Homo sapiens: one gene and its partners. The protein of the gene in region 4 purifies or fractionates together with the protein of the main gene of each other region. This does not show direct contact. Each region holds a gene or a part of one and is shown on either strand. Other genes may lie near its edges. The genes, in order: PPP2R2A, ZFP1, POTEF and SERTAD4.

Region 1 (8,091 bases), on a different chromosome or scaffold from region 4:
GGAATCCACAGTTTATCCATTATGAGTAATGTTGCTGTGAACATTCTTACTCATGTTTTTTGCTGTACAATCATGAGTAGAAATATTATGCCCATAGGGTAGGCATTCACTGTTAGCAGACATCACAGTAAAAAGTTCTGCTAATTTTATTCTTGTGAACAGTATATAAATTTTATGGCTGTTCTACATCTTTGCCAGTGCTATGTGTTGTATTATCAGTCTTTTAAAATTTAACACTTTGTGGGTATGAATTAAGTTTGTATTTACTGTTTGTTTGTTTTTTTTTGAGACGAAGTCTTCTTGCTTTGTCACCCAGGCTGGAATGCAGTTGGTGTGATCTTCGCTCACTGCAACCTCCTCCTCCCATCAAGTGATTCTCCTGACTCAGCCTCCCAAGTAGCTGGGATTACAGGCATGCACCACCATGCCCAGCTAAATTTTTGTATTTTTGGTAGAGAGAGAGTTTCACTGTGTTAGCCAGGCTGGTCTCGAACTCGACCTCAGGTGATCTGCCCGCCTCAGTCTCCCAAAGTGCTGGGATTACAGGCATGAGACATCACGTCCGGCCTTGTACTTACTCTTGTGATTCACATTGAGATTGAGTAGTTGTTGTGTTGTTTTGAGACAGGGTGTTTCTTTGTTGCCCAGGTTGGAGTGTGCAGTGGTGCGCTTACAGCTCACTGTAGCCTCAAACTTCTGGACTCAAGTGATCCTTCCCACTTCAGCCTCCCCAGTAGCTGAGACTACAGGCGTGCACTGCAACACTTGACTAATTTTTTTTTTCTCTCTCTCTTTTTTTGGTAGGGATGGTCTCACTGTGTTGCTGATCTTGAACTCCTGACCTCAAGCAATCCTCTGTCTTGGCCTCCCAAAGTGTTGGATTACAGGCATGAGCTGCGACTCCTAGCCAGAGCTGCTTTTTATATGTTTATTGGCTATTTGGATGTTATCTTTTGGAAGTGACTATCGAAATCTCTTATAATTTTCTGTGTTGTGTGTCATTTTTCTTACTGATTTGTAGACTTTCTTTACACTTTTTGTAGATGAACTCTTTTTCAGTTACATTTGTTGGAGGATCCAGGGGCAGTGGCTCACGCCTGTAATCCTAGCACTTTGGGAGGCTGAATTGGTTGGATCACTTGAGCCCAGGAAATTGAGACCAGGCTGGGCAATATAGCAAGACCTCATCTTTTTTAAAAAACAAAACAAAACAAAACAAGAAAACCCACACATTTGTTAGAAGTATTTTTCATTCTGTGACTTGCCTTTTCATTTTTTTGAATAGTATATTTTTATAAATAGAGATTATTAATATAATACAGTTGATCAGTATTTTTCTTAGGGTTACTGGTTTTTCTGTCCTGTATAAGAAATACTTTTCAACCCCAAAATCCAGGGAAGACATTTCCGTTATCTTTTAGAACTGTATGACTGGTACTGTAGCTACTAGATCCATGTGGCTATTCAGATTAATGGGGAGTTGAGTCTGTTCTCTCTCCCCTAATGCAAGACCCTGTTGCAGTGGTCCCTGTCTCCATGGCCCTCTTTAAAGTCAGCCTTACTACCTTATAAATAAGTAAATAAATAAATTTAAATTATTAAAAATAAATTGTAGAATTAACTTCCTTAGTTGCAGTAGCCACATTTTAGGTGTTCAGTGTGTGCCTAGTGCTCAACATGACTAGTGGCAACCATACTGGACAACACAGATACAGACTATTTCCATCATTGCAGAAAAGTTCTCTTGGGTCCTGTTATCCTAAAACTTAATTATTGTACCTTCACATTTATATCTCTTATTCATCTGTAATCACTTTACGAGTGGTTTTGGGAAGGGGTCGAGCTTCATTTTATTTCCTATGAATAGTCAACCTAACACCATTTAGTGAAAAGACCATCCTTTCCCCATTGCCCAGCAAGGCAACCTTTGTCATCATTTAGGCCTGTTTCTGGGCCATCTGTTCTGTTTCATTGGCACATTGGTGTATCCTCATGCCAGTACACAGTCTTTATGACTTTGCTTTAAAACTTGGTTATGATGTCCTTTAGTGAATTCTGTTAGCATCTGTGTTGAAAATGTGTGATTTTGGTTTTGTGTCCTGTGTTTGTAATGTATGTAAAGTATGTGACATAGCTCATTCTAAATCCTGCTTTGAAAGTCTTTATTGAATGCCTGTTATATGTGCCAAGTACTGTTATAGGTGCTGGGGAATAAAGCACATCTAAACTTACTGTAGAAACTTTCATGCAAATAGATTGTATGGTTAGGAAGATGATTCTCATAGTGATCATAAAGGCAAGCAAGAAAAGAGAGGGAGGTGAAAATGCTGTGCAGGTAAAGCCAGTATGAATTGTTGAAGGATGTGTCACAATTCTGTATGACTGTAGGAGAGGTTTTTAAAACAAAAACATTGTGTTTGATTTTGATGCATTCTCATTTGAGTGGCTCAGTGTTGAGTATGCGGTTATGTGTCTTCTTATTCAGGCTTGCTCACTGTACTTTGTTTGTGCAGGGAACAATGCTATCATGATCATTATAATGTAAACATCCCCTCCCAAAGTGTTAGGAAAAGTCTGCTGCAGCTCCCTGTGGTCTACTGTCAGTTACCACTTGTACCCATCTGTTTTATAGCCTCTTCAGTTTTGTTACTGCTGCTGTCATTTCTGCCATTACTCTTTGTCCTGTGGACTTGTTTTTAAAAGTTCTGTTATGATCACTTTAATAAAGTTTCAGGAGAGAGGGGAGGCTAATGCATGTGCTCAGCCTGGCATCTTGAGCTTTTTAGACAGAATTTTCTCCTTTTGTGATACATTAATTTATTTCCTGTTGCAAAGAGATGGAGCTTCTTGCAGTCCACGAAACTGCCATATACCTCTATGATTTTGTTTTTGGATTCTGTAAGATACCATGTTTAGTAGACCTGTGTTGTTGTCCACGAGTCTACAGGAAGATGTTCATGTTTTGTTTCAGAAAATATTTCTGTTGTTTTGTGCTTTTCTTAACTCATCAAATACAATGTGTGGCTCGCCCTTGGCCCTTCATATTGCTTACCTTAATTGTGTAGACCATAACCAGTTTCTACTTTGACTAAAGTTTGACGTACACAAGTTACTTGAATGTGGGGATTCTGTCTATCCCTCTACGCCCTAGTGTACATAGTACTATATATTATAGTCTCTTTAAGTGTTAAATGAAAAACCAGTCTAAAATGCAGGATTTATATTAAAAATCGAGTTGCCTGCTTAATGGTATTGTGGTTTCCTTGTAGACTATAATGATAAATTTTGTGAGACTGGGTGAGTCATTTTAGGTAAAAGATTTGTGGAGCTTTAAAGTGATACTGGAGTATTTATATATGTTAATGGAATAGGCTGTCTAATTTTGTGTATGGGTATGGTGATGAGACCAAGGCTCTGAGTCTGATTTTTACCCCTTGTGTATCCCCGATATGTGGATCGTTTTGTGGGACATGTATTCTTAACATTGGCAGACTTGCCCTCTAATAACTGATAACTGCTGTCCAAGGGTTCAAATACAACCATCCATGAATGAACAACCCAGATCATCAGGCTGCTGGAAAAAACAACCCAAAACATAGACTTTCAAGATGATTCAGTGAAGTTTCCTTTTGATATGGAGAATAGTAATAGGCTGTTTTTATTATCAAGAAGTTCTAAACATTTCACTGGGTAACTCACTTTTACTTAAAATAGTTGACTGTCAATAATATCTCATTCTATTTTTTACTTAAACTTTTTCCATAGGTGGTTCTTTGAACTAGACTTTCAAATTTTTTTATGAAAATGTTTTTAATCGTGTGATAATAGGTCAAAAGATGAAATTCTGAACATGATTATAATTCTCACTTTTGCTGAGATATTAATGCTAACCAGAGTAGTTCAAAAGTAGTCCCTTTATGAGATAGCTTAAATTACATTTTTTCAAAGTGATACTAAATGAAATTAGTCATCAGTGTGTGCCAGGTTCATAAGATGAGAAAGCAAATTTAAGGCGAGTAAGCAGTTGTTGATGGGGGTGCATGGGGCCATTGCTGGGTAGTGCTGAATATGGACTTGATTGGTAGCAAAGCTGTCTGGAACAGTGGTCTTGGGGTGGGAGGTAGGGGTCAAATGGTATCCCTTCTTTTATAAGAGCTCTTTTTTTAAGCTTTCAGCAGCGAAATAACCAAAAGGCGGGCAGCAGAAAGGAAAAGGACAATACATCATATTAAATAACAGATCGGGGAGTTGACCCTAAAGTGGGCATAGGAAGAAGGTGTGCCTCACCTAGCTCTTTCTGGGCAAGACTTTATCATTATTTTTAGATGAACTTCCTTATTATGGGTGCTCAGTTTTTTTTCATCAGTTTTTTTCATAGACTATACCATCAAATACATAAGAGTAAATTAGCAATCAAATTGATCCATATTTAACGTCATTATTTCCCTAATGAATTGAGCTTATTTATTCAGCTTTATTTAGCCTTTTCCCCCGTTAAGTTTTCTCATTTAATCCTTGAAGGCCTTTAGAAATATAAAAAACAGAATGTAATTGTATAAAGACACAACTAATGGGGTATTGAGAATGTGCAGGGTCCTTTGGAATTGATTACATATTTGATTATTTTGAAATATTTTTCAACAATGGTCCATATATTTTTGTTTTCATTTTAGAACAAAATCCAGTCTCATAGCAGAGGAGAATATAATGTTTACAGCACCTTCCAGAGCCATGAACCAGAGTTTGACTACTTGAAAAGTTTAGAAATAGAAGAAAAGATCAACAAAATTAGGTGGTTACCCCAGAAAAATGCTGCTCAGTTTTTATTGTCTACCAATGGTAAGTATACATATTTTCTTTCCATGTGCCCACTGTGTGTACCTGTTGCACATATCCTGTAGCCTAGGAGAGGAATCATTTAACAGAGATACTTGTAAAAAGGACTTTTGTTTTTCTATACAGAATGTAAACTCTACTTTTTTACTGTCACTTGCAGTTTTTAGATTCTCTGAAAGATTCTCTGATAGCAATTTTTTGTTTACTACACCTCCAATTTGTAGTGAAAAGAATGGGCTGCTATACCATTGGATTTAGGTCAGGTAATATTTCTGTCATTTCTCAGTCTCGTAATCTTGGGCAGGTTACTAACACTGAATTGAATTTTCCTCAGCAGCAAACTAGAGATAGCAATTTTTTATTATAGTATTATTATGAATATTAAATAACTTCACATACATCATGAGTGCAAGTGCTCAATAAATGTTAATTTATTCCTCCTTTTTAAGTGTTTGTAAACTACACAGAGTATCTCAAACTGCAGATACAAAATACTCAAAGGATGGTCTCCATTCCAGGATACGCTATAGGAGAGCACTTTCTTACTTGATCACCATTAGCATATTGCCTTCTTCCCAGCAATCCACATGGCTGGAAGGAGATTCCTCTCCTACTGTTTACTTGCCAAGGGAACATTTTTTGTTGTTTTTTGAGACAATGTCTGTCGCCCAGGCTGAAGTGCATTGGTGTAATCACAGCTCACTGCAGCCTCGACCTCCCTACCTCAGTCTCCTGAGTAGCTGGGACCACAGGTGAGTGCCACCACACCCGGCTAATTTTTTAAAAACATTTTTGTAGAGACTGGGTCTCCCTATGTTGCTCAGGCTGGTCTTGAATTCCTGGGCTCAAGCAGTCTGCCCCGCTCAGTCTCCCAAAGTGCTGGGATTACACGTGTGAGCCACTATGCCTGGCCCAGGAAAAGTTGAGTGAGGATTAAAAGTTAGTAATGACAGGCCGGGCGTGGTGGCTCACGCCTGTAATCCCAGCACTTTAGGAGGCTGAGGCGGGTGGATCACGAGGTCAGGAGATTGAGACCATCCTGGCTAACATGGTGAAACCGTGTCTCTACTAAAAATACAAAAAAATTATCCGGGTGTGGTGGCGGGTGCCTGTAGTTCCAGCTACTGGGGCGGGGGTGCTGAGGCAGGAGAATGGGGTGAACCTGGGAGGCAGAGCTTGCAGTGAGCCGAGATCGCGCCATTGCACTCCAGCCTGGGCAACAGAGCGAGACTCGTCTCAAAAAAAAAAAAAAAAAGTTAGTAATGACTCTACCAGAATTTGAAATCCTTTATGATGAGTTGGGTGCTTTCTCTTTGTTCTTATGAAAAACTTTTTCCTGTGAATTGTTTGGACTTTGTTGGGGTCTTGAGTCTAAAGGGAATCATTAGAGTGACTGAGGAGATACTTTAGTTTCTGGGTAGCCGTAGTCTATAAAAATTTGTGATTAAAACTTTTTTGAGGTTGGTGCTAGGGTGAGGGGAACCTCTTATTTTCTCATCCCCTCACTATTAATTTAAAAAGCAAATTCTAACACCTAGACCATAAACATTTGCAGAATATATACTTAAATGACTTCAGGATGAAATGGGGGAAGAAATTCAGCACTTCCTCCATCTAATTGATGCCCCTCGTCCACAGTATTAGTTCTTAGAAATGCTGTTCACAAATGCCTGATGGCCATCAGCGTTGGCCGCCTCCTGGGTGCCCGTTTTTCTGATCATGAAAGCTTTCCCCAGCCAGTCCATTGAGATGCGTACCCTCTGCCTTCTCTGTTTTCACAATAGACTGCATTCCCCTCTCTTGTCCTTATTAGAAGAAAAATAAAGAGAAGTAACTATTTAAAGCCTGTAAATCACAGCACTATGGGTGGAGGGAACAGTTTATTCCTGTCATATGCTAGCTTCTAGTCTTGGGTCAGTTTTAATTTATATGGTAAACTAAGTTATTTCAAATAGCTTCAAATATTTTAGACACTGTTCTTTGGCATCAGATGATACATAATTAAACCATTTATATAATTTCTACTTTTAGAAGTAAATGTTCCTAGGGAAATGTGTTGTTAACATTTTATATATTGGAATATTTTTATGTCAGTTTATTTCTTATAGGGCTACATCAGCTTTCTTATAAAGAGAACTTTTTAAATGTAGGCTGAGTTCAAGAGAATAGTATAGTGAAGCCCTGCATGCTCATCATCCACTTCTGACACTCCTCAGTTCATGGCTAATTTGTGTCTCGGATCCTTCCCCTTCCCCTCCTCCTCAGTGTTATTTCGAAGCAAATCCGATTACAACGTCTATGGATTAAATCTTGTTTAAAGACATTAGAGAATGCATTGTAGATTTTTGTCTTTTGTTTCTTAATACTAAGTAAAATACAGCTAACTGGGGGCTGCATTTTTTAATGCTAAAATAAGTGCTTAATAATAGAGTCCAATGTGGAAGGATAAAGCAGATTATGAGAATCATATGAACTGTTGTGTCTGGGTAGATGGGAAAAGGATGGGAGGAGTAGGACTTGAACTATATCTGAAAAACTATTTGGAAAGAAGGAGACTTAGAGAAAAATGTCAACATCTGTTGATTCTGAGTGATATCTTTTATATTATTTTGTGTATTTTTCTCTGTGAGTTTTTTCTGTGAGCATAGTAACACCCCCCCCCCCCAATATAATGGGTCTATATAAAAACTATATCTGTGGGAGAATGATGGAAAATAGTACCAAACTTTCCAGGTTTGATTAACCAAAATTAATCTTATAAAAATATTTGCATTGGCTTTCCATGATCATTATATGAACTGGGTTTCCCAGATCATTTTTACTTAAAGGACGTCATAGTCACCTTATAACTTGAGTTAATTTAATGTTCCTTCAAGCATTTTAATTCTCTTTCTCTTTAATCTTCTTTTGCTCCTCTGAATTCTCATTAATTCCTCTACATTGCAGAAAACATGAAACTGACCTGTCAACCATGAGTGTTACATATATGAATAATGTAAAGTTCACTCATAAATAGGGTGTGTCTTAACAACTTCTTGATAAGTTTTTTAGGGTCTTACATAAAGCTGCATTCCCACAAAGGAAACGGCAGCGTGGTTTTCCCTGCTCATACCTCTCATACCTTCTGCTTGTGGTGAGAGGAACTCTGTTCTTCTGCAGTTTCTCCAATGCTTTAGTTATTAGTGTTGATAATTCAGGGGAACACCACAGTGTGGTCGTTTTGGAAGGAACAGATCTTGAGAATCTAATAACGTC
Region 2 (8,192 bases), on a different chromosome or scaffold from region 4:
GTGCTTTCACAACAACAAAAAAGCAACTAAAGCAAAAAACTATTAACTCAGAATTCTATACCCAGCAAAAATATCTTTCAAAAATGATAATGAAGTAAAAAACCTTTTTCAAACAACAAAAACATAGCGAATTCATTATCAGTAGACCTGCACTAGAAGAAATGTTTAATGAAGTTATTTAAATAGAAGAAATATGATATCAGACAAAAACCTGAATCTACACAAATAAATGAAAATCTCGAGAATCGTTAAAATGAGGATCAACACAATAGATACTTTTTCTTGCTTTTAATCACTGTGAAAGATTATCTAAAGCAAAAATAGTAGCAAAGTTTTGTGGGTTTACAGCATATGTCAATATTCTGCAACATGTATGACAACAATAATGCAAAAGACGGGAGGATGAAATTGGGAGTATAATGTTCCAAGTATATTGACATAAAACAGTATGATATCTTTAAAGTTCCACTAAACTTTAGGGTAACAACCAAAAACTCTGTTAAATTTTTACAAATATACAATAAGACAACAGTGGAGATAAAATGTAATTATAAAAAAGACCCACTTAAGACAAAAGTAGACAGAAAAAAAGGTAAACAGAAACAAAGACCAAATAAGAAAAACAGAAAAAAACCAGCAAGATGGTAGACTTTAACACAACTATATCAATAATTGGCATAAACACACCAATTAAATAACAGAGGTCAAATTATATAAAAAAAGTAAGACCAAACCATGTGCTGTCTATAAGCAGTTTGTTTAAAATATAAAAACATAGCTACATTCAAAGTAAAAGGATGATCAGTTGTAGGAGTCAGGAAATTAAAAAAAAAAAAGATAAAAGAATGGAAAAAGAGGGTCAGGCACAGTAGCTCATGCCTGTAAACCCAGCACTTTGGGAGGCAAAGGTGGGTGGACTGCTTGAGCCCAGGGGTTTGAGACCAGCCTGGGCAACATGGCAAAACCTCGTCTCTACAAAAAATACAGAAAATTAGCTGAGTGTGGTGGCTCACACCTTGAGTCCTAGCTACTCCGGAGGCTGAGGCAAAAGGATTAGGGCGCACACCTGCAGTCCTAGCTACTCGGGAGGCTGAGGCAAAAGGTTTGAGGTTGCAGACAGCTGTGACTGAACCACTGCACTCCAGCTTGGGCAACAGAGACAGACCCTGTCTCAATCAATCAATCAATCAAGGAAGATTCTACGATCAACAGCACAATATTTATTCAAATACACACGAAACAGTTACCCAGAGAGATCATCATATCCTCGACCTTAAAACAAACTACAACAGGCCTGGTGCAGTGGCTCACGCCTGTAAAGCACTTTGGGAGGCCAAGGTCAGCGGATCACTTGAGACCAGGAGTCTACTAAAACAAAATGAAACAAAAATACAATACAAAAACAAACCACAACAAATTTAAAATAATTGAAATTCGTAACACAGTATTCTGACCAAATCAGAATTAAACTATAAATCAATAATATAAAAAGATCTGGGCCGGGTGCGATGGCTCACGCCTGTGATCCCAGCACTTTGCAAGGCCGAGGCAGGTGGATCACCAGGTCAGGAGATAGAGACCATCCTGGCTAACACGGTGAAACCCCGTCTCTACTAAAAATACAAAAAAAAATAAAAAAATTAGCCAGGTGTAGTGGCGGGCGCCTGTAGTCCCAGCTACTCTGGAGGCTGAGGCAGGAGAATGGTGTGAACCTGGTAGGCGGAGCTTGCAGTGAGCCGAGATCTCGCTACTGCACTCCAGACTGGGCAACAGAGCGAGACTCTGTCTCAAAAAAAAAAAAAAAAAGATCTGGAAAATCTCCAAAAACTTGGAAATTATGCAATACAATCTAAATAAATAAGGGTAAAAAATGAAGTCACAAGGGAAGTTAAAAAAATTTGAATTGAATGGTAATGAAAACACAATAAAAAGGCTGGGTGCAGTGGTTCATGCCTGTAATCCCAGCACTTTGGGAAGCCAAGGCGGGAGAATCACTTGAGGTCAAGAGTTCTAGAGCAGCCGGGCCAACATGGTGAAACCCCGTCTCTACTAAAAATACAAAAATCAGCCAGGTGTAGTGGCGGGTGCCTGTAATCCCAGCCAGGAGGACTGCTTGAACCCGGGAGGCAGAGGTTTCAGTGAGCTGAGTGCCACTGCACTCCAGCCTGGGTGACAGAGTGAGACTCAGTCTCAAAAACAACAACAACAGAAAAGAAAATACAAGATATAAAAATTTGAGTGATGTAGTTAAAGTAGTATTTAGAGGAACAGTTACATCAATAAATTGTGTCTGGCCGGACGCGGTGGCTCACGCCTGTAATCCCAGCTACTCGGGAGGCTGAGGCAGAGCACTACTTTAACCCAGGAGGCGGAGGTTGCAGTGAGCCGAGATCAAGCCACTGCACTCCAGCCTGGACGACAGAGCGAGACTCCGTCTCAAAAAAAAAAAAAAAAAAAAGAAAGTAAAGAAAAGAAACGGTACAATACAAAAATATAGTATTACAATCACATAGGACCACCATTTTACATGAGGTCCCTCGTTGACAGAAACACTGTTACGCAGAGCGTGACTGCACCAGAATCATGGGAAAACTTTCGTATTTCAAAGTAGTGAAGAATTTTGGGTGCCCCAAACGGAAAGAACAGTAAATTCCACCCGAGAGAAATTTAAAACGTCAAAACGTATACATGGCAAAATCTACCAGCGAGTAAAATCAAAAGATAAATGAAAAAATATCTGCTGCTCACATAAAGTACCACCGGGTTGTGAGACCTTAGGGAAATCACTTTCCCCTTCTGAACCTCCCGTGTTCCTGGGATAGCGACGGAGATGATAACGCTGGAAGTCACGGGGTGGATGCGAGGATCAGGGGAACACCTCACTGAAGACCCTCTGACAAAGGGATCACGGTTCTCCTTCACCACCGGCAACTGACCAGGCTCCAGTCCTTCCTCCACCCACGAGGCACCGGGCATCGGGGCGTGGCCAGGTGTGTCAGGCCACGCCCCCACCACGCCCCGGCGGGGCCTCGTCCCGCGCGCGCGCGCCCGCCGGGGCTCCAGAACTCGCTCCCGCGCGGCCCGAGCCCTTCGCCGCCCGTCTGAGGCGCATCTCCTGACAAAGAGAAGAAGGCGAAGCCTCATAGCCGCCCTTCCCTCCGCCGTCCCCGCCCCCGCACGTTCGGCCAGGCGTGCCCCGCCGGCCCCGTTCAGAGGCGAGCGCCGGGCAACCCCGGACGCCGCCCTGAGGGTCACTGCCGCCTACGAGTAGCCGAAGTTTGGGCTCCCACCCTGCGCGGGCACGAGCCCATCCCTCATCTCCTTCCCCTCGGCCCCAGGCCGCGCGGAGCTACCTGGAAGCCCCTCTCGTACCTGGAGGGGCGCAGCCTCCACTCGTGGCCCAGTGCCACAGCGGGTCACGGCGCAGGGCGGCGAAGACGCGCGGAGACGGGGGCTCTGTCACCCACTCGCCGCTGGTGGTGGGGGAAGGGCGGCCACCGGCGCGCTCGCAGCACTGCACATGCGCAGAAACAGGGGCGCGGGCCGTTCCCAGGGTCCTCGGAGGGGTGGACCATCCACGTTCGGGACTACATTTCCCACAAGCCTCCGGGGCCGCGGCTTTAGGGACTCTCAGGAAAGTCTTCGCCTTGTTAGGCGGTCTGATGAGCCGACCAAAATAATCTCCTTAGCCTGCACTGTTTTCTTTTTTCCCAGAGTGGGTCGTGAACTACAATTCACCACCTCCCCCTTAAATACAACAACTTGGCTTTTAAACATTACACAAATAATCTATAACTGTATTTAATTAGAATATATGTACAAAATAAAGTATCCATAATCTCACTTTCTAAAGATTAACTGCGTATAACATTAAGTTCGCACTTTGATTTTTTTGTTGTTGTTACAAAACTGGCCATAAAGGTATCATGTGCTGCAACTAGCTTTTTTCCCTTTTTTCCCAGGCCACTTTGTTGAGGTATATATATTTGTTGAGATCTATATATTTAAGATGTACAACTTGATATCTACATTTGTGAAATATTCACCATAATCAAGCTAATTAACATGTGCATCACCTCACATAGTTATTTGTCTGATGAGAACACTTAAGATCTATCTTCTTAGCAAATTTCAAGTACACAATATTGTCAACTATCGTCACATAGCTGTGCATCTCCCCAGAACTACTCATCTTGCATAACTGAGACTTTGTACCCCTTGACCACCATCTTCCCATTTCCCTTCACCCTCAGTTCCTTTCATCCTTTAGAACAGTTTTAGGTTCACAGCAAAATTTGAGCAGAAAATACATTGAATTCCCATATAACCCATGTCCCCCCAGCACACACAACCTCCCCAAAGTTGATATCCCACACCAGAACAGTGTATTTGTTACAATTGGTGAACCTACAGTTAAATATCAGCACCTGGCCAGGCTCAGTGGCTCACACCTGTAATCCTAGCACTTTGGGAGCCTGAGGCAAGCAGATTGCTTGAGCCGAGGAATTTGAAACCAGCCTGGCCAAAATGGTGAAACCTCATCTCTTAAAAAAAAAAAAAAAATACAAAAATTAGCCGGGCATGGTGGCACGCACCTGTAGTCCCAGCTACTCGGGAGGCTGAGGTGGGAGGATCACTTGAGCCTGGGAGGCTGAGGTTTCAGTGAGCCAAGATTGTGCCACTGCACTCCAGCTTGGGTGACCCTGTCTCAAAAAGTATAAATTAAAAAACAAAATCATTGGCACCCAAAGTCCATAGCTTACATTAGTGTTCACTTGATGTTGTACATTCTATGGGTCTTGACAAATGCCTGTAACCATTACAGTATCGTACAGAATAGTTTCACTGCCCCCCAAAAAATCATCTGTGCTCCATTTATTCATCCATCCCACAACCCCTGGAAATCTCTGATATTTTTACTGTCTCCATAGTTTTGCCTTTTGCAGGTTGTCATATAGGTGGAATCATACATATGTTGCTTTTTCAGATTGGCTTCTTTCATTTAGTAATATACATTTAAGTTTCCCTCATGTTTCCCTCAAGTTACCCTGGCTTTTTTTTTTTTTTTTTTTTTTTGACACAGGGTCTCACTCTGTCACCCAGGTTGGAGTGCAGTGGTGCGATCATGGCTCACTGCAGCCTCCACTTCCTGGGCTCAAGTGACCCTCCCAGTTCAGCCTCCCAAGTAGCTAAAACTACAGGCATACACAGCCATGCCTGGGTAATTTTTTGTATTTTTTGTAGAGATGGCATTTTGCCATGTTGCCCAGGCTCGTCTCAAACTCCTGGGATCAAGAAATCCTCCTGCCTTGGCCTCCCAAAGTGCGGGGATTATAGGGATGAGCCACTGTGCCCAGCCTCAGTTCGTTTTAGTGCTGCATAATATTCTACTGTCTGCATGTACCAGTGTTTTAAATCCATTCACCTACTGAAGATACATTGGTTGCTTCTAAGTTTTGGCAACTATGAATAAAGCTGCTCTAAACATCTGTGTTCAGGTTTTGTGAGGATATAAGTTTCCAGTTCATTTGGGTAAATCGTATGGTTGCGGCCGGGTGCAGTGGCTCACGCCTGTAATCCCAGCACTTTGGGAGGCCGAGGCGGGCGGATCACGAGGTCAGGAGATCGAGACCATCCTGGCTAACACAGCGAAACCCTGTCTCTAATAAAAATACAAAAATAAAAATTAGCCGGGCGTGGTGGCGGGCACCTGTAGCCTCGGCTACTTGGGAGGCTGAGCCAGGAGAATGGCGTGAACCTGGGAGGCGGAGCTTGCAGTGAGCCGAGATTGCACCAATGAACTCCAGCCTGGGCGACAGAGCGAGACCCCGTCTCCAAAAAAAAAAAAAAAAATTAGCATGGTTGCTGGATTGTGTGGTAACAGTATGTTAATGAGACAGGAGAGTTCCCTGGACCCCTTCGCGGGACTTGTCGTGGCTAGCTTACTCAGCCACTGTGCTAAAACCCCTTATGGGAGGGGGAGCACAGAGGCAAGTGGGTGCCAGGGCCAGGGTGAGCACCTTTGGGCTCTGGCCCCATGGTAGCATCTAGGGGTGTGTTACAATTAATGCTCTTCTAGCAGTTGCCATCCATGGACAGCTAAGCGTTAACCAGCTCAGTGGAGAGTGAGGGTGACAGCCTTTTACACCCTGCCCTCTTAATACCCAGGTCCTTGTCCAGCATCCAGAAAGGATCAGGTCACATGGACTTGAAGAATGGTAAATGCAGAGGTTTTATTGAGTGAGGGAGGTGGCTCTCAGCAGGATGGGGAGCTGGAAAGGGGATGGCGTGGGAAGATAATCGTCCCCTGGAGTTCTGCTGTCCCTGGCCAAATTCCTCTCTGACCATCCAGCTACCTCTTCAATGCTCAATTGCTTCTTCTCTTTTCTCCTTCTCCACCACCTTGCTCTGCAGCTCTGCCCCTCTGCCCCTCTGCTGCTCTTCTGTTTGTGGAGCCTGGGATTTGGGGTTCTTATGGGCACAGGATAGAGAGCAGGGTGGGCCACAATGGTCTTGGAAAAGGCAACGTACAGGCGTGAAAACAGGAATGCCTGTTCTCATTTAGGGCCATGGGTCCAAGCTTGAGGGTAAGAACCCTCACCAGGAATCCCGCCCTCCTGCCTCCTGTCCATATCATTAGTTTTGTAAGAGACTGCCAACACTGTCTTCCAAAGTGGCTGCATCATTTTGCACCCACCAACAATGAATAAGAATTCCTGTTGCTCCAATTTCTCACCAGCATTTGTTGTCAGTGTCTTGAATTTTGGCCATTCTAATAGGTATGTAGTGGTAGCAGCTTGCTTTTAATTAAAACAATATCCTCAAACAGGTTCATAGAAAGGTGTTTACACCAATGTTCATAGCAGCATTATTCACAATATCCAAAGGTGGAGACAATCCAAGTGTCCATTAGCTGATGAATGGATACAGTGGAATATTATTCAGCCATATCAAAGAATGACGTTCTGGTACACGCTACAACGTGATTAAAACTTGAAAATACACTAAGTGAAATAAGCCAAGCTGGAGGTAGTGGCATGTGCCTGTGGCCCCAGCTACTCAGGAGGCCGAGGCAGGAAGATCACTTGACCCAGGAGTTCGAGGCTGCAGTGACCTATGATTGCACGACTGCACTCCAGCCTGGGTAGTAGAATGAGACTCTGTTTCTTAAAAGAAAAGAAAAGAAAAAAAGAAAGAAGGCAGACACAAAAGGACAAATACTGTATGATTCCATTTATATGACGTACCTAGGATAGGCAAATTTATAAAGACAGAAAGTAAAACAGAGTTACCAGGGACTGGAATAAAAAGGGATGGGGAGTTAGTGCTTAAACGGTATAGCGTTTCTGTTTGGGATAATGAGAAAGTTCTGGAAGGAGAAAGTGGTGATGGATATACAACATTGTGATGTGAGTGTACACATCAAATTTTTCTGAAGATCTTATTATACCAACATTTAAAAATTATAAATTACCATAACCTATAATCTTATGGAAAGATGTATATACAAGAATGTTCCTCACATTGCCATTTATATTTGCAAAACCTTGGGAAGGATCTAAAAATCTTTTAGTAGGTAAACGTAAAATAAATTGTGGTGATATGTAAGGAGAATTTGGGGAAACACTAAAAAGGATAATGTGTATTACCCACGTGGGGGTTATTTCATTGAGAAATGAAATAATACTGATCACACAAGAATATGTGCAGCGTAATCCTATTTTTGTAAAAAACTATGCATATTTTAAAAAGACTAAACACTGAACTATACGAAGAGAATGGAGAACTCCCCCCACACACACATACACACAAGATAAATTCCCCTTACCGCCTTATGTGTAACAGCACTGAGTAAGCACCACGTGTGTGGGCTGTACTTTTCAAGACCTTCTAAAATTCACAACCACATTGTCCTCTATTAATTTTCCCTGAAAAATAAAGAGAAAGTGTAGCGGGTGTTTCTGAGAAACACATTGCTGACCTGGCCAGCTCATGCAGAGGTTCTAAATGTTGACACCTTTTATTATACAGTATCAAACAACTACATTAATATCACCACTGGTGGCCGGTGCAGTGGCTCATGCCTGTAATCCCAGCACTTTGGGAGGCCAAGGCAGGCAGATCCCTTGAGCCCAGGAGTTTGAGACAAGCCTGGGGAACATGGCAAAACCATCTCTACCAAAAAAATAAAC
Region 3 (8,226 bases), on a different chromosome or scaffold from region 4:
AATGCATAAACTTCTAGAGGAATCAGTAAAATAAAGATAAAAAGTTCACACCTAAAGTAGTAATACTAGGAATAAAAGAGGGCTCGACACTGCAGGTTCTTAGATACAAAAGTTAATAAAGCCTTGTTTTTGGTTGTGAATCTTTGCCTTAAAATACACACAGCTGACCGAGGTGGGTGGATCACCTGAGGTCAGGTGTTCTAGGCCAGCCTGGCCAACAGGGTGAAACCCCATCTCTACTAAAAATACAAAAAGTAGCCGGGCGTGGTGGCAGGCACCTATAATCCCAGCTACTCAGGGGGCCAAGGCAGGAGAACTGCTTTCACCCAGGAGGCAGGGGTTGCAGTGAGCCAAGATCGGGCCATCGTACTACAGCCTGGGGGACAAGAGCGAGACTTCATCTCAAAAAAAAAAAAAATTACACACAATTCTCCCGACTTCCTTTTTCTCTTGCAAAGAGGTGGTGATGAACCAGGTTTGCTCAGGCAGATGACAATACTCTTGAAAATGGTGGCAGAGAGCCAGGCGTGGTGGCTCACACCTCCAATCCCAGCACTTTGGGAAGCTGAGACAGGTGGATCACTTGAAGTCGGGAGTTCAAGACCAGCCTGACCAACATAGAGAAAACCCATCTCTATTAAAAACACAAAGTTAGCTGGGCATGGTGGCACATGCCTGCAATCCCAGTTACTCAGGAGGCTGAGGCAGGAGACTTGCTTGAACCCAGGAAGCGGAGGTTGCAGTGAGCCGAGATCGCCCCATTGCACTCCAGCCTGGGCAACAAGAGCAAAACTCCATCTCAAAAAAAAAAAAAAAAAAAAAGAAAGAAAACAAAGGAAATGGTGGCAGAGAAAATGAAGGCAATACAGTTCACTTAATAATCTCATAAATTAGAACTTACCCCGTGACTCCTGCATAGCTCCAAATATGTGAGAGAGATGAAATGGCTGTTTGCCACCAATATTTTTATGTGATGCTTCATTTTTTGATTCTCTGAATAACTACTTACAACGCATTAGCCCATTTATGCCAGAGGCTGCAATTTTTTGAATTTTTGCACGAGTGAAAAATCAAACCTTCTAATGACCTTGAGCAGTAGGATGTAATTAACTCCCTCATGCTTACCATTCCAATAATGGAACACTAGGCATAAGTGGTTTAACACAATCGTGAAAGCATAGCTATTCAAGTAACTAATTATACAACTGATTTTTTTCCTCATCCCTAAAACATAGTAAAGGACCAGTTATTTTAAAAATACAACACAGTGACAATTTTGGCTTGTTGTTTGTTAAGGCCATTGCTTGGCATAAAGAAAACAAAAAGAGGAGGAGAAACAAGAATAGAAACATGAAATAGAAGCAGCAGCAAAAGAAAATGAAGAGGAACAAGAAGATGAGAAGAATACACAGACTAGAATAAGCAAAAAGAACAGGTGCAGGAATTAGAAGGCCTATTATGACACCTTTTATCCCCTCCCCAATTCACAAAATTTGAAAAAGTCCAAGACCATCACAACAAAAAAGAAGGAAAAAATGGCCGGGAGTGGTGGCTCACGCCTATAATCCTAGCACTTTGGGAGGCCAAGGTGGGTGGATCATGAGGTCAGGTGATCTAGACCATCCTGGCTAACACTGTGAAACCCCATCTCTACTAAAAATACAAAAATAAAATTGGCTGGGCGTGGTGGCAGGCGCCTGTAGTCCCAGCTACTAGGGAGGCTGAGGCAGGAGGATGGTGTGAACCCAGGAAGCAGAGCTTGCAGTGAGCCGAGATCACACCACGGCACTCCAGCCTGGGCAAAAGAGCGAGACTCTGTCTCAAAAAAAAAAAAAAAAAAAAAAAAAAAGCCACACACACACACACACAGTCACCCCCTAAATTTTGTTAAGAATGAGACAATGCTGCCACTCATGCCTGGCTCAGAAGGAGGCCACCCTCCAGAGATTGCAAGAGAAGGGGGAGGACTCCTTTCCCTAAGTGCACCTCCACCACTGCCACCGAGGCCCATGGTACAGCACCAGCAGGTTCGTCCCCACCCCAGGTCGGACTGGGCCCTGCAGTGCTCCTACTCCCCCTTCCCAGTCCCCAGACTTTCTGCCACTACCACCACTAGCACCAATGCCAATACAATTGCTGTCGCCATCAATGCAGCAGCCCACCCTACAAGGTTCCTACCACCTTGCCCCCGCGGGCACCCTCCTACCACTCCTGTCGAGCTGCAGTCTCCGTGGCTGCCATCAGTCACACGAGGCGAGCTGCAGAGTCACGCCACATGCAGGCTCCAGCGTACCACAGGTGATTCCTTCTCCTCCTCCTCCAGCCTGGCTTGGAGCAGCTAGACGGGCAAAGCCAGAAAAGCCTAGAATGGGATGCAGGGAGTGGTAACGTTAGAGCCTCACCTTGTCATGCTGGCCACTGGGTGGCAGGGACCAGCTTCAGCTAAGGCACTCAGACCCACCCACCGAAGTCCAGCCTCTCTTTCTGGCAAAAGGTGGCCAGGAACTGGGGCGGGTGTGAGTGCCTATGCTGAAACCACCCCCATCCAGGTGCAACTGGCCAGAAATTGCTGGGCCCACCAGGGCTGCACTCCTTGGGGAGCAGGAGTAGGAGAAACTCAGACCCAGCCAGCCCTCCCCACTCAACTGCTGGTTCCCATTCCTGACACCTCCACCCACAGTGCCCTGTTCCCACAGTCCCCCGCGATGCCCACTAATCCCCACCCGGTAGTCCCAGGTGGTCTCCCCAACACAGAGCATGGGGTGTGGGCGGGAGGTGCAGGCCGGAGAACCGCAGTGGGTGTGGGGGCCCTGCCCTGCTCAAGATTGCACCAGGAGGAACTCTGGAGTCTGGAAAAGAGAAGAGTCACCCGAAGGAGCAAGGAGACCATGGCTGTTGCTGTCCCCACCACCTCTGCAGCCGACCAACACCACTGGCAGTATAGCCCCCATAGCAACCCTAACCTGACCCCTGCCGCCGGCAGTGTAGCCCCCGGACAGCACACCCACCACACCCTGTGCCAGTTGCAGGCAGTGTAACCCCAATACCCCCCCCAACCACCCCCTCCACAGGCAGTGTAGCACCCGATAGTGCCCACAACCTGACCCAGCCACAGGTGTTGCTGCACAAGACAATGCCTCAAAATCGCCGCCCCCACCCCACCACAGGTAGCGCAGCTCCTGATAGCGCACCCTGAGTAAGGGCAGTGCAGCACCCGACAACACTCCTAAACCACCCCCCGCTGCCAGCATTGTAGCTCCAAATAACCACCAAAACCACTCCCTGCCCCGGGCAGTGCAGCAGAAAATAGTGCCCCTAACCCCTCCCCCGCCACCGGCAGTACACGTTAGTGCACACAACCTGCCTCCCCCCCATCACCCCCGCCACCACGGGCAGTGTAGCCCCGGACAGCCAGCCAAAACCGCCCCCCTCCACCGCCAGCAATGCAACCTCGGAGAGTGCCCCCAACCAGCCCCCTGACACAGGCAGTGCAGCCTCGGGTAGTGAGCCCCAATAGGACACCCAACCCCTGCCCCCACAGGCGGGCAGTACATCCCCGGATAACTCACCTACACCAGGACATTTCTACCACTCTGGCCGAGCTGCAGTGTCCCACGTCACCACCAAACACAGCAAGGCGAGCCCCAGGGGCTCAGGCTCCAGCCTCCAGCATGCCGCTCCCTTCTACTCGTCTTCCTGCCTGGCAGGAGAAGCTCCCGCTACTGGTTGCCCTCCTACCACTGTCGACACCACCAACTGCAGTGAGCCAGTGTCCGAGGCTCCAGCCAGAAACAGGTAGCAGCCATGCCGGATACCAAACGCCCACACTTAAGAGCCTGAAATGACCTGACGCCACCTCCGCATGCTTTACCTACTGAGGTTACGCACATGTGGTTCCCAGACTACATGTTCTGATTGGATGAGAGAAAAACCTCTAGGCCTACTCTGATTGGACTTTATTTTCATGCTGTGATTGGTTGTCTTAAGACTGGCTCTCATCCAATCAGAACATGATAATAAAGTCCAATCCAAGTAACCCTGGAGGGTTTTTCTCATCCAATCAGAACATGCAGTCAGGAATCCTCCTGTATATAATCTCGGTATATGACTGCTGCTGAAGGGAAGTCAGGCTCTTCCACGTTCCCGTATTTTCCTGTGGAGCTGCTCAGTGCCCGGCTTAGAGGACCAGGAATGGGTAATCACCAGCCGTACGCTGGAGGCTGGAGCCGCTACACCGTGGCTCGCCTCGCTGCGACTGGTGGTAACCGCGACCGAGACGGCAGTGCGGCGGAAGCGGTAAGAGGAGGAAAAGAGTTTTGGGATAGATGGAGGGGGTAAAGAGGGTGGTTAGTGCCAAAGGGAAAAGAGGATAGTGAGCAGGAGAGCGCGTTGCAAAAAGGCGGTGGGGAAAAGATAGTGGGAAAAAAAGTTTTTGGGTAGATGGAGGGAGAAAAACGGGGTGGGGAGCGGGAGGGAGGGAAGGTTTTGCAGAAAGATGGTGGGTAAAATGTTTATGGGTAGATGGAGGAGGAAAAGAGGGTGGCAAGGGAGGAGGAAAGAGAGGGTGGTGGGGGGGAGAAACAGCGTTGAGCAGTAGGGAGAGAAGGTTTTGTGAAAAGACAGTGGGGAGAAAAGGTTTTGGGTAGATAGAGGGGGAAAAGAGGGTAACAGGTGGGGGAAGGGAAAAGGGTAGCCAGCGGGAGGAAGACAAGGTTTTGCAAAAAGATAGTGGGCAGGAAAGAAAGACGGTGGAGAAAGAAAAGACAGTGGGTAAAAAGTGTTTGGGTAGATGGTGGGGGGAAAGAGGGTAACGAGGAGGAGGAAAGAGGGTGACGAGAGGGAGCAGGGAAAGAGAGTTGGGAAAAAAATGGGAAAATAGTTTGGGGTAGATGGAAGGCAAAAAAGAGAGTGGCAAGCAGGATAGGGCAAAGAAGAGGACGAGTGGGAAGGGGGGAAGACTGTGAAAAGACAGTAGGGAATATTCTGGGGGGTGGATGGAGGGGGAAAAGGGGAGGTGAGCAGGAGTGGGGAGAAGGCTTTGCGAAAAGACTATGGTGAAATGTTTTTGGGTAGAGAAGGGAAAGAGGGTGGCAAGGAGGAGCGGGGGAAAAGACGATGAGGAAAACAGTTTTCGGGTAGATGAAGGGCGAAAAAGTGGTGAGCAGCAGGAGTGAGGAGAAGGGTTTGGGAAAAGACGGGAGAAAATGTTTTTGCTTAGATGAAGGAGCAAAAGAGGGTGATGAGAGTGGGATGGGGGAAAAGAAGGTGGCCAGGGAGAAAGGGAAAAGACGGTGGGAAAAACAGTGGGGAAAGTGGGTAAGTGGATGGGGAAAAGGGTGGTGAGTGAGAGAGCAGAGAAGGCTTTGCGAAATGACGGTGGGGAAAAATGGTGGGGAAAAAGTTTTGGGGTAGATGGAGGAAGAAAACAGGTGGCGAGGGGGAGGAGGCCAAAGGCGGTCGGGAAAAGAAGGTGGGAAAATAATGGTGGGAGACAAAGATTTGGGGTAGATTTTTTTTTAATCAGATTATTTGTATTTTTGCTTTTGAGTAGTTATTTATATATTTTGTGTATTAGCCCCTTGGCTGATGCATAGTTTGCAAATACTTTCTTCCATTCTCTGGGTTGTTTCTTCGTTCTACTGATTTCTTCCTGTGCTTTGCAGAAGCTTTTAAGTTTTATGTAATTACATCTTTGCTTTTGTTGCTTGTGCTTTTGACAAGTTTAATGTAATTACATCTTTGCTTTTGTTGCTTGTGCTTTTGATGTCTATTTGAAAATTCCTTGTCCTAACCAGTTTCATGAAGGATTTATCCTATGTTTTCTTCTCTAGTAGTTTTATAGTTTCAGGTCCTACATTTAAATCTTTATTTTGAGTAGATTTTTGTATATGGTAAGATAACGGCCTAGATGTATTCCTGTACATGTGGGTGTTGAGTTATCCTAGCAGTTTATTGAAGAGATTGTCCTTCCCGAATGTGTGTTCTTGGTGCCTTTGTTAAAAATGAGTACGCCATAAATGGGTGAATTTATTTCTGATTTCTCTATTCTGTTTCACTTGTCTATGTCTGTCATTCCTTCGTTTCTGTTTCTCCCCCGCCCCTTTTTTTGATAGTATTATGCTGTTTTGGTATTACCATGCTTACTACAGATTTGTAGTATGTTTTGAAGTCAGGTGTGATGCCTCCAGCTTTTCTTTTTATTCCAGATTCTTTTGTCTATCTGAGGTATTTTGCGTTTCCATGTGAATTTTAGGATTTTTTTTTTCTATTTCTATGAAGAATGTCTTTTGTAATTTAACATGGATTGCATTGACTCTCTAGATCACATTGGGTGATATAGACATTTTAACAATATTCTTCTAGTGCATGGACATGGGATATCTTTCCATTTACTTGTGTCTGCTTTAATAGCTTTCATCTGTGTTTTAGAGTTTCCATTGTGGGATCTTTTGTCTTTTTGGTTAAGTTTATCCCTAGATATAATTTTTTTGGTAATGAAATAGCTTTCTTGATTTCTTTCTTAGGTATTTCACTATTGGTGCATGGGCGTGCTACTGATTTTTATATGTTGATATTGTATCTTGCAACTTGACTAAATTATTTCTAGTAGGTGATTTTGTGGAATCTTTAGGGTTCTCTCTTTCTCTGTGTATATATATGATCATGTCACCTGCAAACAAACAGTTTGACTTCCTTTTTTCCAATTTGGATGCCTTTTATTGCATTCTCTTGTCTAATTGCCCCACTTAGGACTTCCAGTACTATGATGAATAAAAGTGGCGTAAAAGTAGCCACACTTGTTCCAGGCCTTAGAGGAAGAGTTTAAACATTTCCCCATTGATTATGATGTTAGCTGTGGGTTTGTCATATATGGCCTTTATTGCGCTGAGATATGTTCCTTCTGTACTCATGTTGTCCAGTTTTTGTCATGAAGGAATGTTGATTTTTATTTTTTTCAGCATCTACTGAAATGATTATATGGTTTTTGTTCTTGATTCGCTGAATGTGATGTCGCACATTTATTTGTGTTTTATTGAATCATCCTCATATTCCTGGGATGAATCCCACTTGATCATGGCAGATCATCTTTTTATTGTGTTGTCAAGTGCAATTTTCAAGTATTTTGCTGAAAATTTTTTTGCATCTGTGTTCATCAGGGATATTTAAAATGCCTGTGGTTTTCTTTTTGTGTTGTTTCCTGGTCTGGTTTTTGTACCATGTACCAGGGTCATGCTGTCCTCATAGAACAAGTTTCGAAGACTTCCTTTCTCTTCATTTTTTGGGGAATATTTTGAGTAAAATTCGTATTAACTCTTTAAAAAACGTTTGGTAGAATTCAGCAATAAAGCCATGATTCTTGTGTTTTTGTTTGATGGAAGACTTTTTATTACTGCTTTAATTACATTACTCATTATGGATCTTGTTCCGGTTTTTTGTTTATCATTCTATCTTGGGAATTTGTTATGTGTCCAGAAATTTATCACTTCTCCTAGATTTTCCAACTTGTTTTTATATAGGTGTTTTTAGTAATCTCTTACAATCCTTCATATTTCTGTGTTATCCATTGTAATGTCTCCTTTTTCATCTATCATTTTGTTTTGTTTTTCTTTTCCTTAGTCTAGTTAAAGCTTGTCAGTTTTGATTTTTTTCTAAAAAATCCAGCTCTTTGTTCCATTGACTTTTTGTATTTTTTGTTTCTATTTTTAAAATTTCTTCTCTAATCTTTATGATATTTTTTGTGCTAATTTTAGTATTTTATTTTTCTCGTTTTTCTCATTACTTCAGGTGTACTGTCAGGTTGGCTATTTGAGATCTTTCTATTTTCTCTGATGTAGGCATTTATAGCTATGCCCTTTTCCTCTTACAACTGCTTTTGCTGCATCCCACAGGATTTGTTATGTTGTGTTTCTTTTTTCAATAAATTTTTAATTTTCTTTTTATTTTTTCATTTATTTATTGGTTGTTCATGAGCATGTATTTTAATTTCCATGTATTTGTACAGTTTTTCCTCCTGTTATTGATTTCTAGTACTATTCCACTGTGGTCAGAAAAGATACTCGATATGATTTCAGTTTTGTTTTGTTTTGTTTTTTTTGAGACGGAGTCTCGCTCTGTCGCCTAGGCTGGAGTGCAGTGGCGCGATCTTGGCTCACGCAAGCTCCACCTCCCGGGTTCACGGCATTCTACTGCCTCAGCCTCCCCAGCAGCTAGGACTACAGGCGCACG
Region 4 (8,091 bases):
CTTTAGTCTTTTATTTAAAAAAAATATTGTATCATATAGAAGAAGCAGGTATCTTTGCTGGTTATATTGATTTGCTTACCAAATAACTCCCTAATTAACTGGCAAACATGTAGAAATTTCTTAGCTAGTGACAGGCTCCTTGGGGGGCAATGGAAATATTGCAAGGGCACATTGTCCCCCAATCTCATCTACTGATCTTTTCCGTAAGAAAACTATGATATACTTTTAAGCATTAAGTCAATCGTTTCCTTGGTAAAAATCACCACATTTATAAGAAGCTCGCTGATGCCTGCTATACAGATGTTTTACGCAATCTGCTCTCCAGGCATTAAAACGACATGGCATGTTCATGGCATAATTTTATCTGTTGTACAAAACTACAAAATCCATTCAAAATAAAATTTACGAGAGCTAACTGATCATGCTGTGCATGCTTCAAAGTTCGGTGAGAAGATGGCTCATATTTTACTTCCTTTGCTGCAGCACAGTTTGTTACTTGGTGGTGAAGCCTCCTTTTTCCGTAAGGACTTTTTCCAAGATTCATTTACATTGTTTCTTTCATTATATCCGGTCTCAAAATAATCATAAAATTGGCCTTTGCACTCAAAAGCAAGGTCATTTCCCACAGGTTCGTGGCTGAGGGGGCCACCATCTCTGTTGGTGTCATCATTTGCTTTCTCATCATTTAATTTGGCCTTTTCCTGAACACCAAGTGATCTGACATTAGTGACAAAGATTTCATTGGCAGGTATCTGGCCATCACTCTTGTAAATAGATGCACTACCTACATCAAAATCCACCTGGCGGGAACAACTCGGTAAAGGCAAAGGGGGAGAGGAAGAGGAAGATGAGGAGGAAGAAGAGGCGGAGGGAGAGGAGGCAGCAGTGGAGGCACTTCCAACATTAGCATTGACAGAAAGGGGTAAATTTAGGTAGTGGCCACCACATTCTTGGTAAAAGCAGCAGGCATGAAACTTTTCACATTCCTCTTTGGCCATCCGTGGTCGTTTTCGGTAAGGGCAGTCTTGAGCCATAAACCACTCTTGGGCAGAGGTGCCATTGAAAGAGCAGGCAGGGAAGCACCAGTTATTCTGCATGATAATTTCTCCATGGATCCTTTTCATCAAATTGTTTATAAGGACAGATCTTCGGAGGTACACTTCAGGATCATCGATAAACTTTAGCTTTTCTAAGGACATATAAAGGATGTGGGCTCGTTCCTCAAAAATTGAGATGGTCTACAAACCAAAAAAAAAAAAAAGAAAAAAACAAACAGAAAAAGGAAGAGAGAAAGCTTAGAAAATGGACTATATGAAAACATCATCATAGCATACTTCTTTCTTGGCACTGTCTGGGTCTGGGCATGTTGTGGTCTTGTTCCGCAGGGTTAATTTAGAGAGGCTGTCCCCCATTCTGCTGATATTCCCTTTCCTCACTTGGCTGGAGCACCCACCCACTTCCTGACTCACTGGTGTGGTCAAGCACTAGGGAATCGAGCCACAGTGCAGGCCCCAGGAGGGACAGTTCAGGTGGTTTGATCTATTATGGCCCAATAAGGAAGATGCTGAAACACAAAACTAATCTAAGCTATTAGAAGTCAGGAGAGGAGGTACTTTCAGAGTTGGGGTGAGCGGGGCGAGGGGTAGTGTTAGAAGCCGGCAGAAGGAAGATTCTGGTTGCTAGTTATGTTTTGGTTCTCGACCTGGATGTTAGTTACATGACCTCATGAAATTCATCAAGCTGTACTGTGATACCTGTACTTTTTTATGTGTGTCTATACAAATACACACACACAGACACATAACTCATATATTGTACATCAATACATGTTTTTAAAATGATGCCAAAATGCAAGTCATAATGAATATACTTCAAACCCTGGTCTAGCCAAGAAGGAGCATGAGATTTGGCTTTTAATGCTGTCCCTCTTTTAATCCTTTGGGTTTCATACTTGCAATTATCCTTGCTTGATAAGAGGACACACTAATGAATGAGGCTCAGACCCTGACAGAATGTGTCAGTTGAAGGACCAAAGTAGGCTTCCTTGTGGAGCTGAGTGGGAGACGAGATGCCGAGAGGAAATGAGAGGGCTCACTCCTGAGCTGTGTGACACTGTCACTATGCGATGGTTGGTGCAAATCCAGTAGCAACTGGGAAACTGCTACAACCACAACACAGAAACTAAAAAGGAAATAAACTGCTTGTGTCCTGGGGACCAGTTATTCCAGGCCATCAAAAAAGCAAACTGGCACCATAACCTGAGGAGCTGTGAACTAAACCAGCCCATACTGACCAAAGGCAGGGACTACACATGCAGGGAAAAGCCCAGTACCTACCAATGCATTCTGCTGTCTTTTCATGAGCAAGGTAAAAGCAACATCTAAAGGATGAGGTGGCAGAGGGGGAAGGCAAGAGGAGACAGAGAGGAAGAAGAATTGAAAATCCTCTCTGCATTTCAGACAACTATGGTCTGTGCTTATACCTGCCTTGATTAAATCAGCAGATAGTTATTGAAGGAAGGTAACTCTAAAGAAAAATGAACTGATATTTCAAAAGCTTAGATGCCCAGATTCATAATTCTATGCAATTTCCCCATCTTGTTTTTTTTTTTAACTATACCTACAAAAAAGTTAGCTTTGGTCTTTTCCTGGAAATGAAGTCCATGTTTCAACAAACTTATATGTAACCCATGTCCAGTGAAGTGCATATTTCTACTTGTATACACACATTCAAGGATGATGAGTCTACCCATAAGAGGTCAGGAAAAGCCCTGTGTAACCACCCCCATGTGGACACACAGGGAAGTAGCATTGGCTGCAGGAGCCAGAACTCAGACTGGGGAGAACATGACAGGAAAGAACGAGCGCATTCCCCACACACAAAAGTGTGGAAGAACCATAACCCAAAACACAGTCTGAGAAATATTAAATCATACGTTAAAAAAAATTCCTTGGATTACATAATTTTGACATTTCTGGGTAGAATAGCTCTTGCCAGCTTTTTCTTCAAGTACTTGTGAAAAATAACACAGGACCCAAAAAAGCGACAACGATTAATGAGGCTCCACTGAGAAGTGGCTCATTTTCATTGCTTGGGTGAAACAATTTAATTCCTGGAAGTGGATCAAGCAACTGTTACTAAGTATCTTAAACTCTTAATAAAAATAATGACTATTAAAAAAACATACTTTATGGCTACAGCTGCTGAGTGGTGGGTGAAAATCCTCTTCTTCCACATACTTCCTCTTAAAGTATGTGATCTTGGATGTTGTTATAGGATTTGAAATTCCCCTGTAATGTGATCCTGTGGTAATAAATCAGATATGACAAATGACATGCGGTTTGCCAGAGGTTCTCCAAACAAAATACTTTCGTTTCCTTTCCTTCTAGAGGATAACTTGGCTACATATTTGTCTGTACATGTGGTGATTAAAAATAAACATTTGTCTTAATAGTTGCTATCATATGGAATCCTGTGACCCAGGCTAGGAAAAGATTTCTAGGCAATTATAGAGGAAAATCACATATTTTAGCATTTAATAAATATGCAGAATCTTAATTCTATGCAAAAGGAAACTGCAACATTCATAAAGGGGAGGAGTGTAATTTCTCTAAAATATATTAGTATTTATTTAAATTGTTTAATTAAATTCATGACAACATAGCACCACTGTTAAAGATGTATACATCTTTAACTGTAACCACTGATAACCAAACAACTTTGAAATCTTATTGGCTTTAGGTTAGTGAACAAATGGTTATCTGCACATTGGGATTATAGCATTCCTTTTTTTCAAAATACAAAATTCAAATTTTTAAAATTTGAGTTAAAATTTTGGGTAACTAATGTCCTTTTCACTCTCCAAAATGTAGTATGCCAACCATGAAGACCACAGTTTTTAATCTTTTTTAGCAAAACAGACTTCATTGAGTACTTGTTTTATATTTTAGTTTCTTTTAAAAATAGCTAATACTGCAAAAAAATCCAAAGGAACTTAAACTATAAGAAGAAAGAATCAGGAAGAACATACTTCTATTTTCTTGGCTTTAAATTTTTTTCCTACAATCCTAAAACCAATTGTGTGCTTTACCCATTTATGCCATAGGTTGCAAATTTTTTTGTGTTTGAAAAGTCAGACCTTGGTGATGACCTTGAGCAGTAGGATATAAATAACTTCCACAAGCTTAGCGTTCCAATAATGGAACACTGGGCATAAATGGGTTAACAAAGAAAAGAAGCTCATAGCTGCTGGCCCAAAGTGCAGATTCCTTTATATCTCATGGGATAAAGGTGTCATTGTTGAGCCCACCAGAGCTTTCATAGTTGTGAGAGAACCATACAGTTCCACAGGGTAGAAAACCAAAACCCAAACTCAGAGTTTCAATATCTGGTTTGGCCCTCTTAAAAATACAGACACATGACTTATATTCAAAAAGCAGCATGGGTAGACACAGGTTTGAATGCAATTTAAATATCACCTCTGGTCCTCTCTCTGGAGCTCTGGACTCACTTATGAGAGGCGCACAGGCAGCCCGGGAAGTCCCTGGAGCTTTAGCTCTCCTGGCTCAGAGGGGCACCCCAGACACCACCTCCTGTCCACCAGGCTGGCTGCAAAGGGCAGCGAGGGGTGGGGGGGATGGGCGCAGGTCAAGGGCAATACCTGCCAGTGGGGGACCAGCTCCCCGGTCTCCCTGCAAAGGAGCTTGTGCTGGCCCTGGGGGGCTTGGGCCTCCGTAGCTGTCAGCCTCCCATAGTGTTTGGTACCCAGCAATTTCAGCAGCTCCTTCCGAGACAATGGGCTCGCAGAATCTATTCATGGACAGAACCAGAGTCATCTCTGACAGCCTCAGATCTGAAAAGAAAAAAAAAAAAAACAAGAATGAAGAAAACAGCCCTAATCAAGAGCAAGCCAAGGGACGGCCTTGGCATCTTCATTTCTTTGCTTTGGGAAACTTTTACTTCTCGGCCCTCCCCTTTACCCTGAAACATTTTATTATTTTTTCAAAGAAAACCTCAGCAAACTCTCTAGCTGCTATTAGCTCAGCCTCTGTGTTCAGCAATCTGCATTTCATGGGCGGATCTTTAAAACCCCATTTCTTATTGTTCTCAGATTCCCTTCAGCCCTCTTCTAGACAGCTGCTTTGCCTCCTAAACACATTTTCCTCCTGACCTTCCAAAGAAAATGTACTGCTAAGAAGCCAAAACCCTTGCGCTTCCTTTCTATTAATAAGGCAAAATCAATTTTCTAGTCAATCCCCCGGGAGTCTCCTTTGATGAAATCCACTAATCAATCAAAAGAAAAGGGCAGGGGAAGCAGAAATATCCACCGTAATTCCAACTGATGCTCTGAGGTTCAGTCTGTTCCGCTGCCCCCTGCACCCTCCTCCTCTCGTTTCCGCAGGCCAGTTCCTCTACAACATGCTGGGGCTCCCTCCACTTTCTTCTCCCAAAGCAAAGCAGACAGAGAGACACTTGGTAGTTGTTTCCACCAGCCCTGATCGGCCTGAACTGGATCTGCCTCCAGTCAAAACACTGCGAGATGAAGACAGAAAATTGGCTCCAGTTTCAAGCCGTGAGTTGCAGTCCCACAGGAGCCAAGCACAACATCAACGGAGCAGGCAGAATATTAAACAGGAGCCAGGCTCTGGGGCCAGAGGCAGCCAACAACTCTTTACACTGCAAAGCCCAGACACAGAGCAGGAACTTTCCAAGAGGCAACACATCACTGCCCTTCTCTCCAGTTCACGCCCTTCTCCCTTGGGCCTGCAGGGAGATGGGAGCTTCTCTGCTCTGTGAGGCTTCCTGGGCCCCTCGATAGCTCAGGCAGTGAGGCCGCTTTCATGGGGGCTCTGTGTCTTCACTTGGCCCTTTGCAGGTCTCGAGGTAGGGTCAAGAGTAAGTTCAAGGGAGAGGAGAGTCTGATATGAAGGTAAAAAGACCTAGCAGCCATAGACCAGTGGTGACAGTAGCGCAACCTCAGTGCCTCCTTAACTGCCAATCCCTTTAGGAGACTCAAGCCCCCACTATCTCATTCTGTGGTTTCAAGAACTGTCACACAAGTGACGTCAGGCTTTCTGAAGATTGATTGTCTTTCAAACATAAACTAAGGGCCCAGTTCTTGCTTTCTTTTCCAAATTATACAGCTTGTAATGTTTCTGGGAAAGAGTGAATCTACCATTGTCTCGTGGGAGACTATTATTACCTACATGCTATAACAAGGGTCCACTTCCAAGGAAAAAGAGGAAAAACACCAGGGTAAGGCGAAATAGCATCATTAAAGTGACAATGTCCTTCTGGCTAAAAGAGCAGCTCTTGGCAGCAATGACTCTACCTTTCACCCAGTCTTCTCTCTGAGGTCTCAAATTCTGTCCCAACCACACTGAATAATGAAGCAAGATCTTTTGACAGACAGGGAAGGTGTACAGGTCAGTGGAGAGAATTAGGACTCAGCTGGTTTGGGCTGCTACAACACCTCCCCGTTCTCTTTTAAGATGCCCTCCAAAGAGACATCAGTACGGACTTATTAGTAAACCTTAAAACAAGTGGGCAAAAGAAAGGTTCGATTAAATCTTTACAAAGAAACGATGGGACATGTCATTTATTTTTCTCTTTGAGTCATCAACAAAGAAATTTAGCCTACATTGATTTAACAAATTAAGTCCTTCTGTCTATCATTTCTCAAACTCCTCATCCAAGTAGGGTATCAAACTTCATGATGATTTATTCCCTGGAAGACTCTCATGAAATTGTCCAGTTTCTTCACCTATTCTAAGAGACAATCATATCAGGAAATACTATTGCCAAGAGCACATGAATTACAGCTTTTCAACAGTCAGCAGCCCTTTCTTATTGAGAGAATCAACATTTTCTAGTTTGAAGTTTACACTCACTTTTGTGTTAGATCATGGGAATAAGATGCAAGCCTTTTGCCTATGCAGACTTTTATTTCATGTAAACAAAAGCAGGTTGTCAAACTCATGCCCCTTAAGAAAGAAAAACATTTGCAGGCTCCTGGCAGCAATTACTTTTGTTTAACAGGACATTATATGGGCCCTGTGCTGTTTTATGTTTGTCAGAGTTTGTTTATATTTTAATAACTTTTTGGTAGTACCTTTTTTGGTTGTGAGGAATTTCAGCGTTTCTATTTGTTAGCATTATTTCCAGCATATCCTATTATGCACGTGAACTTGAAACATGGCATAACAGTATTTATCTTGGCTATTATTTTGTTCACAATATCTAATTTTACTAAGTTTTTCTTTTTTAAATTGAGAACTGTTACACACAAAACCCTAAACTAGAGAGGCTGAGTTCTGCAAGTGATTTATGTAAATCTGAATAAAACATGAATGAGTTGGGATTATTTGGGAGCGGGGAGGAGATTTTGCAATTGAGTCTTCCTAGTCTATTTAAAACTTACACTGGATGTTAACAAATTAAGAAGGCAAGTTGAATGTTCACGAAAAATTGGACAGGGCAGCGTTAAGCACAAATGCTTAACGTGAATCTTTCTTCGTATTATATGTAGAGATCTAAACTGTCATAATTCTCTGTCTGATAAGATTTATAATTCTGCTACTGACGTCAGCAATTCAAGTCCACAAATTCGTGTTCTATTAATATTAAATAAAGAAAAGGATATACATTATGGCAAAATTTATTTTCTAAGATCAGAGGTGATGGATTCAACAGGAGGGTGTTAGAGTGTGTTTTGTCTATGCATGGGTTTAAAAGATAAGAAAAAAAAAAGCCCTAACCCTTCATCCTCAGGCTCCTGAATGTCTGTTTTGACACCCAGGTGGATGTAGTGGAATGACACTTCCAGCATCCCCAGAAGACTGAGGGCTAGAATGCCAAGCTTTTCCAGCAAATGTTCGTAGTAAAGTTACCAGGCATTTCTATACAATTTGTTTTTTTCCAGATGAGTTGGGCTTGTTCTTTCCTAGAAGCAATTATGATGCTAATAGGAGTGGCTGGCACACAAAACAGGGTAGCTATGAATTCAGCGGCACCTTGAATCTAACAAGGGGCTCCAGGTCATTCTTTGCTCACTTCTTCTTCCATCTGTCATTGAAAATTGGAGAGCATTTG

What was found.
Region 1: the proteins of SERTAD4 (region 4) and PPP2R2A purify together in Homo sapiens (affinity purification with mass spectrometry; 4 studies listed by BioGRID and IntAct, with this or other methods). This does not show direct contact.
Region 2: the proteins of SERTAD4 (region 4) and ZFP1 purify together in Homo sapiens (affinity purification with mass spectrometry; 3 studies listed by BioGRID and IntAct, with this or other methods). This does not show direct contact.
Region 3: the proteins of SERTAD4 (region 4) and POTEF purify together in Homo sapiens (affinity purification with mass spectrometry; 3 studies listed by BioGRID and IntAct, with this or other methods). This does not show direct contact.

Annotation. Positions count from the first base shown.
Region 1 is NC_000008.11:26,349,795-26,357,885, forward strand, and holds part of PPP2R2A (serine/threonine-protein phosphatase 2A 55 kDa regulatory subunit B alpha isoform), read left to right. Parts: intron 1-4,673; coding exon 4,674-4,839; intron 4,840-8,091. UniProt on the Homo sapiens protein: Substrate-recognition subunit of protein phosphatase 2A (PP2A) that plays a key role in cell cycle by controlling mitosis entry and exit. Involved in chromosome clustering during late mitosis by mediating dephosphorylation of MKI67.
Region 2 is NC_000016.10:75,143,824-75,152,015, reverse strand, and holds the start of ZFP1 (zinc finger protein 1 homolog), read right to left. Parts: upstream 3,493-8,192; 5' UTR 3,373-3,492; exon of another isoform or gene 3,354-3,372; intron 3,116-3,353; exon of another isoform or gene 2,977-3,115; coding exon of another isoform or gene 2,749-2,976; intron 1-2,748. UniProt on the Homo sapiens protein: May be involved in transcriptional regulation.
Region 3 is NC_000002.12:130,125,503-130,133,728, forward strand, and holds the start of POTEF (POTE ankyrin domain family member F), read right to left. Parts: upstream 3,721-8,226; 5' UTR 3,570-3,720; intron 2,363-3,569; 5' UTR 2,207-2,362; intron 1-2,206.
Region 4 is NC_000001.11:210,234,705-210,242,795, reverse strand, and holds part of SERTAD4 (SERTA domain-containing protein 4), read right to left. Parts: intron 5,511-8,091; exon of another isoform or gene 5,328-5,510; intron 4,853-5,327; 5' UTR 4,836-4,852; coding exon 4,661-4,835; intron 3,304-4,660; coding exon 3,188-3,303; intron 1,239-3,187; coding exon 459-1,238; 3' UTR 1-458.